Linked DNA regions of Homo sapiens. The protein of the gene in region 2 interacts with the protein of the main gene of each other region in a biochemical or structural test. Each region holds a gene or a part of one and is shown on either strand. Other genes may lie near its edges.

Region 1 (3,652 bases), on a different chromosome or scaffold from region 2:
GAAAAAAAGACTTTCTATGCTGGTGTATATAGGAGCATTTGATTTATTGCTGCCCATAAGGATCTCCTGGGGAGCTTTTTAAAAACATCAACCTGAACCCCACCACAAAGATTCAGTAGGTCTTGGCAGGGCCCTGGAATGTGTATTGTACAAAAGCACCTCAGATGATCTTGATGGTTACCTCTGGTTAAGAAGCACTGCTCTCTGAGAACCCTGTAAAGGGAAGGCAATTCCTTCCATCACACTGGCCTACAGAAGTCATGAGACAGAGGTCCCTCTTATGGTCACCTTGAGATCAGGTGACCAGAGATTGCTTGGACACCCCCTACAACCCACCTCCCCCCACCACATAAACATTTTTACTTCTGTCTTCACCTTTGAAGCACTAATTTTTACCAGTCATGAAACAGACCCTTAAATATCCGTCTTTGAAATTCATTTCAGATGGAGTGTGATGATTCGTGAGACTCCCAGACAAACCCCGCTGCTAAAAGGACAGGTTGAAATGGATGTACCACGATTTGAGGTAACTACTGTTCAGCTGTAATTCAGACCAATATCTTTATTACTCAGTGAAATAATTGGCAAAACCCAGAGAGAAGCTTTTGCATTGTGCATGGATGAGGATGAGATCATTGAGAGTTGGTGACATGTCAGTCAGCAGCTATTTACCAAGAACTATGTTAAGCACTGGGGATATAATTCATTCACTCATTTACTTATTCATTCAAAATATTTATGGAGTAACTACTTTATGTGAGATATTATTCTAGGAGATGTTCTTATATGCTACTGGGTAAAGAAGAATGACATAGTCTACTTGAATAGATGGAAAAATAAATTGTTTTAATCAAGTAGTATGAGTGTTAGTATATAAGGAAGTAGAGGGGGTTGGGAACACATAGCAGGAAGATCTATCTCAGTCTGGGGAAATCAGGGAAAGCCGCTCAGAAGGAGTGCCATTTCACAAGATACTTGAGATCCAGAGGGAATTAACCAGGAGAATAAGAAAGGGGAGGGCTGTTCCACACAGATGGAACAGCGTGTATTGTTCCAAAGGCAAGGGAGAGCATGGAATATTCACGAAACTGAAGTACATTCATAATGGCTGAGGCGTAGGGGCCAGGAAGGGGGCATTCAGGGAGAGTGACTAAAGATGAGGCTAGAGAAGTAATCAGGGGCCAGGCCAGAAAGGGCCTGATAAACCACAGTAGGAAGTTTGGATTTCATCCTAAGAGCAATAAGAATTACAGAAGATTTTTTTCTTATCTTATTATGAAAATTTCTACATTGATGAAAGTTAAAATGGTAGCTCTACTACTAACATTTTCCTATGCGTGCTTTATCACATATCCAGTCATCTATCCAGTCTGCTATCTAAGAGAAGGGGTTTAAGTAGAGGAGTGCCATGGTATGTGGAGAAACAATTGAAGGAATAAAAGACTAGAGGCAAAGAGAAAAGCTAGGAGATGTTGTAATTGTCTAGGCAAGAGGTGATGGTGATTTGGACTGGTGAAGTGGTAGCAGGGATGAGTAGCAGTGGATACATTTGAGACATACTCAAAAAATAGAATTATCAAGTCTTGGTAGATGTTTGAATGTCAAGGGTGATAGAGAGGAAGGAGTAGAAGTTGTAATTAAGAGCACAGACTCAAGAGCCAGACTACCTGGAATTGAATCCTGGCTCTACAATTTATCATCTTTCCCTTCTCTGGGCTCAGCTTTCTCTTCTGTGAAATGGAGATAATAACAGTCTTTATCTCATAGGGTTGTTATGAGGATTATATGAAAAAATATACATGTAGCTTAGAACAGAGCCTGGCACATAGTCAGTACTATATAAGTGGGTGCTGTTATTATTGGTAGTAATATTATTAAAGAAGTTACATTCTGGAATTGGAAAGATGTAGATTCGAATCCAGCTTTATTCCTTACTAGCTATGTAATATGAGATTGTTTGTTCATTTGAAACATGAAAGAAATAGTACCTCCTTCATATGAGGTTTTGATTATTAAGAGAAAATGAAATACATCTAAATTTTTAGAATACGCATAGATCTAAGATCATCTCTGTTGACCTTCAACAAGAATTCTTTGATCATTATCATTTCCAGAGAGGCAGTTGAGTTGCGGGTAGAGTCAGTAAGAAACAATGAGGCTGCAGGGGATGAGGATGGGCAGCACACTGTGTTATTGTACTAAGATTCCAGGGCTAAGAACTCCTTTTGCCCCTAGGCTGCTGCCATCCAACACTTAGAATCTGCAGCCACCGAGTTGAACAAAATCCTGAAGGCCAAGTACCCCACAGAGATGATCATCGCAACCAGGTCAGTCTTCCTTTGGCTCTCATCCTTTGGGGCTGTTCCCAGGTCAGACATGGGGCTCATTTTGATAGCTGAGGGTGTTGAGGCCAAGGAAAATACATGTTTATGTTCCCAAATCAGATTTCTCCCAACTCAAACCCCCTGAATGGAAAGTTTAGGAAAGAAAGATGACATTGAGGTGAAGTCGTCTGCTGCTCCAAAAAGTCAAAATTGCAAGCCAGAGATTTGGGAAGAGAATTATAGTAGGGAAACACAACATTATAGACCATTTAGGAGCATAGCATAGCTCCCTATAGTATAGACACCTTGCTTTCCGTCTTTGACATTAAGAAAGGTCTCTGCAATATCTGCCTATAGCTGCTTTCTCATAACCTGAGGAACACATTCCCCCTTCTAAATATGTGGGTCATTTGTTTCTTCTGGGACTTCTTAGGGGGCTCCTGCCCAGTCGACTACACTCTCCTTTGAGAAAAACTTCCCACAGGGAGAGTCCTCCCAATATAATTGTTTGTACTAAATTAGCTGGGCCCTTGAAACATAGCTGATTGAACCTAGGTGAAAACCTGACCCAAGTTGGACCAAGTGAATTCTCTTTTCTGGAAATTCAGAATTAGTACTAAGAAATGCTGGTCAAGCTCTATTAGGTTCTTGACTTGGGAAGTGGTGTGACACTGAACTAAAGTGGGGATGGAACATATTTCACCATATGCACAGGAAAAAAAAAGCAGAGAGAAAAAGGCTGGGAGCAGAGGGTGAGAGAAAGAGGACAGATCAGGAAAGAGAGAGAGGAGGAGGATGGGGACTGATGACATAAGAGAGAAGGGCTCTGGGCCTCATGGTTCATGTAACATTGTGCCATCTATTTTATCTTTCCAGATTCTTGTGTTCAGCTGTGGAAGATTTTGTGGTTGATATTGTAAAGGCCTGGGGTCAGATAAAACAGAACAACACTGCAATAGTGTCTGTGATTTTGAAAGTAAGTTCCCATTCCTTTTGTCTTATACTCTTTGTGGAGCAGCCAGGGGCCCTTTTTAATAAAAAGCAAACATGCCTCTCACTGGGAATGGTAAAAGAAAGGAAAGGAGGGGCAGCTGTTAAGCCTCCCTGATGAGGAAGGTCTAACCTCATTGAACTTCCATCTTTTGCTAAATGAAGGATGGCGCTCTGCATGCATACACACATACCATGTACATGCCAAGCATCTGCCCACAACTAGACACAAGTGTACATCAAGCAGGTATGTGCATGGTTGTACACCAGAACATGCTTACAAGTATGTACATACGAATACACACTACAAATACATTCACATTTACCTCTCTAACAAC
Region 2 (3,652 bases):
CCCTGAGCTAGATTCTGCATGAAACCACCTTGCAGACAAGGAATCAGATGTTTAGTAACTCTCCCATGGTCACTCTGAGGAGCTGGGATTTGAACCTTCTCTGTCAGACTTCAGAGCCTAAGGGCTTTACCAATACTGCCCTGCTCCTCGTGTCTTTGGGTGAATGAATTTTCCATGCAGTTCAAGAGGTGTTTTCTCAGTGCCTGGCCTGGGCCTAGTACTGTGCCCAGGAGTTGGGGAGGCAGAATGGGCTGGCGCCATGGTGAGAAAGAAAAAACATTGTGTTAGCTGTCCTGATTCAGGCTCAGGGTCTGACACTTTTTAGTTCTGTGACCCTGGGCAAAGCCACTTAACCTTTCAGGCCTTAGTCACCTCATCTTTGAATTGGGATATTCCTGTGTTTGTCAGAGGTTGCGCAGATTTGATGAAATAATGCATGTTTGTTTGATAGATGGGGTATCACTCTGTCACCCATGCTGGAGTGCAGTGGCTTGATCATGGCTCACTGCAGCCTTAAACTCCTTGGCTCAAGTGATCCTCCTGCTTCAGCCTCCTCAGTAGCTGGGACTCAGGCGTGCACCACCATGCCCAGCTAATTTTTATTTTATTTTTTATTTTTTTGTAGACATGGGCAATGGAGGTGGTGGGTGGGTGGTGTCTCACTATGTTGTCCAGGCTGGTCTCAAACTCCTGGCCTCAAGCAATCCTCCCATGTGGCCTCCAAAAGTACTGGGATTACAGGTGTGAGCCATTGAGCCCAACCTGATGAAATAATTTTTATGAAAGTGCTTTTAAAACTGAAGTGCTACAGAAATATTGGCAATCATCTCTTAGGCTGTTCTTACAGATTCTCTAGACTTTTGCATGTGTGTGTTTTAATAAAAAATGATGGCTGTATGGGGGTCCCAGTGGATTAAGCCACTGGTTTGCAACTCTGGTTACCTGTTAGAATCATCTGGGAAGTTTTTAAAACCAAGATGCCTGGTCCCTATCTCCCTACAGGTTTTTGATTCAATCGTTCTTGGACTGGGACAGGGCAGTTTATGTTTTAAAAGCTCCTCAGGTGATTCTAATTTGCAGCTAAGGGTTCCAAGCAATGGATTAAAGAAGAAAGCAGATACATAATGGTTTTATGAAACAGTTTGCTATACCTTAAAATCCAAAGCATTTTCCCCACACATCACTACTTGGTGGTGGAGAATAAACGGCGGCCGGTGGAGAGTTCTGGACTTACCAGAACAAAAGAACTCCAGGACAGGTCCCATGGGGAAGCTGCTGCTTCTCAGCTTCTTCAAGGTCAGGTGACAGATGCTGGGTGATGATCCGGGTGCATACTCCAGGGTGCTAGAGTGGGACAGGAGTATGCTTTTAGGTGGGCAACAGAGAATCTCATGGCACGGCTATAGTTAGTGGGCTCTTTGAGGTTAGAAGCAGTCTTGAATTTCATCTTTTAAATCCAGGACTCACCTACTGTATTAGTGCATTCTTACACTGCTGTAAAGATACTGCCTGAGACTGGATAATTTATAAATGAAGGAGGTTTAATTGACTCACAGTTCCGTACGGCTGGGGTGGCCTCAGGAAACTTACAATCATAGTGGAAGAGGAATCAGGCATTTTCTTCACAAGGCGGCAGGAGGGAGTGTGAGTGTGTGAAGGAGGAGCTGTCAAACACTCATAAAACCATCAGATCTCATGAGAACTCACTCACTATCATGACAGCATGGGGGAAACCACCCCCGTGATCCAATCACCTCCCTCCCTCCACAGGTGGGGATTACAATCGGCAATGACATTTGGATGGGGACACAGAACCAAACCATATTGTTCTGCCCCTCCATCTGCAAGCTGAAGAGCAGGGAAGCCAATAGTGGCTCAGTCCGAGTCCCAAAACCTCAAAAGTTGGGAAGCCGACAGTGTAGCCTCCAGTCTGTGGCTGAAGGCCTGAGAAACCCTGGCAAAACACTGGTGTAAGTCCAAGAGTCCAAAAGCCAAAGAACTTGAGTCTGATGTTCGAGGGCAGGAAGCATCCAGCACAGGAGAAAGATGAAGGCTGGAAGACTCAGCAAGTCTGCTCATTCCACCTTTTTCCACCTGCTTTTTCTAGCCTTGCTGGTAGCTGATTGGATGGTGCCTACCCAGATTGAGGGTTGGGTCTGCCTCTCCAAGTCCATTGACTCAAATGTTAATCTTTTCTGGCAACACCTTCACAGACACACCCAGAAACAATACTTTGCATCCTTTGAACCGATCAAGTTGACAATATTAACCGTCACACCTAAAGTAGTGGCTCATTTGTTATGTCTTTGCTTAATAAATAAATAATAAATATTTGTCCTAGGCATTGTGGGAGATATTTCCCCATCTATTATCTTTTTTTAACTCCAATTTTTAATTTTATTTGAATAAGAGACATGGTCTCACTGTCACACAGGCTGGAGTGCAGGAGTGCAGTGGCGCAATCATAGCTCACTGCAGCCTCGAACCCCTGGGCTCAAGCAATCCTCCTGCCTCAGTCTCCCAAAGTGCTGGGATTACAGGCATGAGCCACTTCACCTGGCCCCACGTGTTATCTAATTTAAAGTTTGCAACACTCCTGAAATGTAGATAATGAAATACAGAGGCGTAGAGAGATGAAATAACTTGTTCATCTTAGTTACACAACTGAGTCTGTGTTCAGAGCTGGGATTTGAACCGATGTGTGCCTAGAAAGCCCATACCTTTCTAGTCAATTGCCTAACAACTAGAAATGAGATTTGAATACAGAGGAAGTCCAGAGCCCCAAATCTCTTCGTGACAAGCCTGCCAGTTCTCCTCGGCATCATTCTAGGCTTTAAAATCTGTAACTCAGTGGTTTTAGACAATGATGATAAGATCTCGAGAGATGATAATTGTAGAAACATGCTATTTCTTTGACCCCGTTTCCTCCCAGCCCCATTATCTTTTATCTATGTGCTGAAATTTCTCTCCTTTGGTGTTTCAGGATAGGGTTTCACCTTGATTTCCTAATTTAGTTTAGTGTTAGTTTATTCTGGCTAAACTTTTAGTTCCTTTTGGGCAGTATGGCCTTAACAGATTCTGACATTCTAAGTCTTGAGAAATTAATGTAGGCCGGGTGCGATAGCACACACCTGGAATCTCAGCACTTTGAGAAGCTGAGGCGGGCAAATTGAGCTCAGGAGTTCGAGACCAGCTGGGGCAACATGACAAAACCCCATTTCAATAAAAAATACAAAAACTAGCCCAACATGGTGGGCATATGCGCTTGCAGTCCCAGCTCCTCCAGGGGCTGAGGCAGGAGGGTTGCTTGAGCCCTGGAGGTCGAGGCTGCAGTGAGCTGTATTTGTATCCCTGCATTCCAGCCTGGGTGACAAAGTGAGACCCTGTCTCAGGAGAAAAAAAAAAAAAGAAATTAATGTAGCTTCAACAGTAAATACAAGTCATGGACTGGCTACTGCCTAAGCAGTTCCTAAAGGCCTGGTGTGTGCAGACACCCAGCTAGGCACTGGGGGTGTAGTGGTGAACGGCACAGACATGGTCCTTAGCCTTGAGGAACTTAAGGAACTTCCAGCCTAGTTGGGAGAGATGAAAAAGATAAAATATTTTTCAGTAGTGGCTTGGCTGCTGCAAAGTTGATTTACTGTAGGTAATC

Evidence for each region.
Region 1: the proteins of PDZD9 (region 2) and DGKK interact in a test that uses a peptide from one of them, tested with the Homo sapiens proteins (one large-scale study listed by IntAct).

What each region holds. Positions count from the first base shown.
Region 1 is NC_000023.11:50,387,202-50,390,853, reverse strand, and holds part of DGKK (diacylglycerol kinase kappa), read left to right. Parts: intron 1-444; coding exon 445-526; intron 527-2,235; coding exon 2,236-2,327; intron 2,328-3,200; coding exon 3,201-3,300; intron 3,301-3,652. UniProt on the Homo sapiens protein: Diacylglycerol kinase that converts diacylglycerol/DAG into phosphatidic acid/phosphatidate/PA and regulates the respective levels of these two bioactive lipids.
Region 2 is NC_000016.10:21,990,992-21,994,643, reverse strand, and holds part of PDZD9 (PDZ domain-containing protein 9), read left to right. Parts: intron 1-3,652.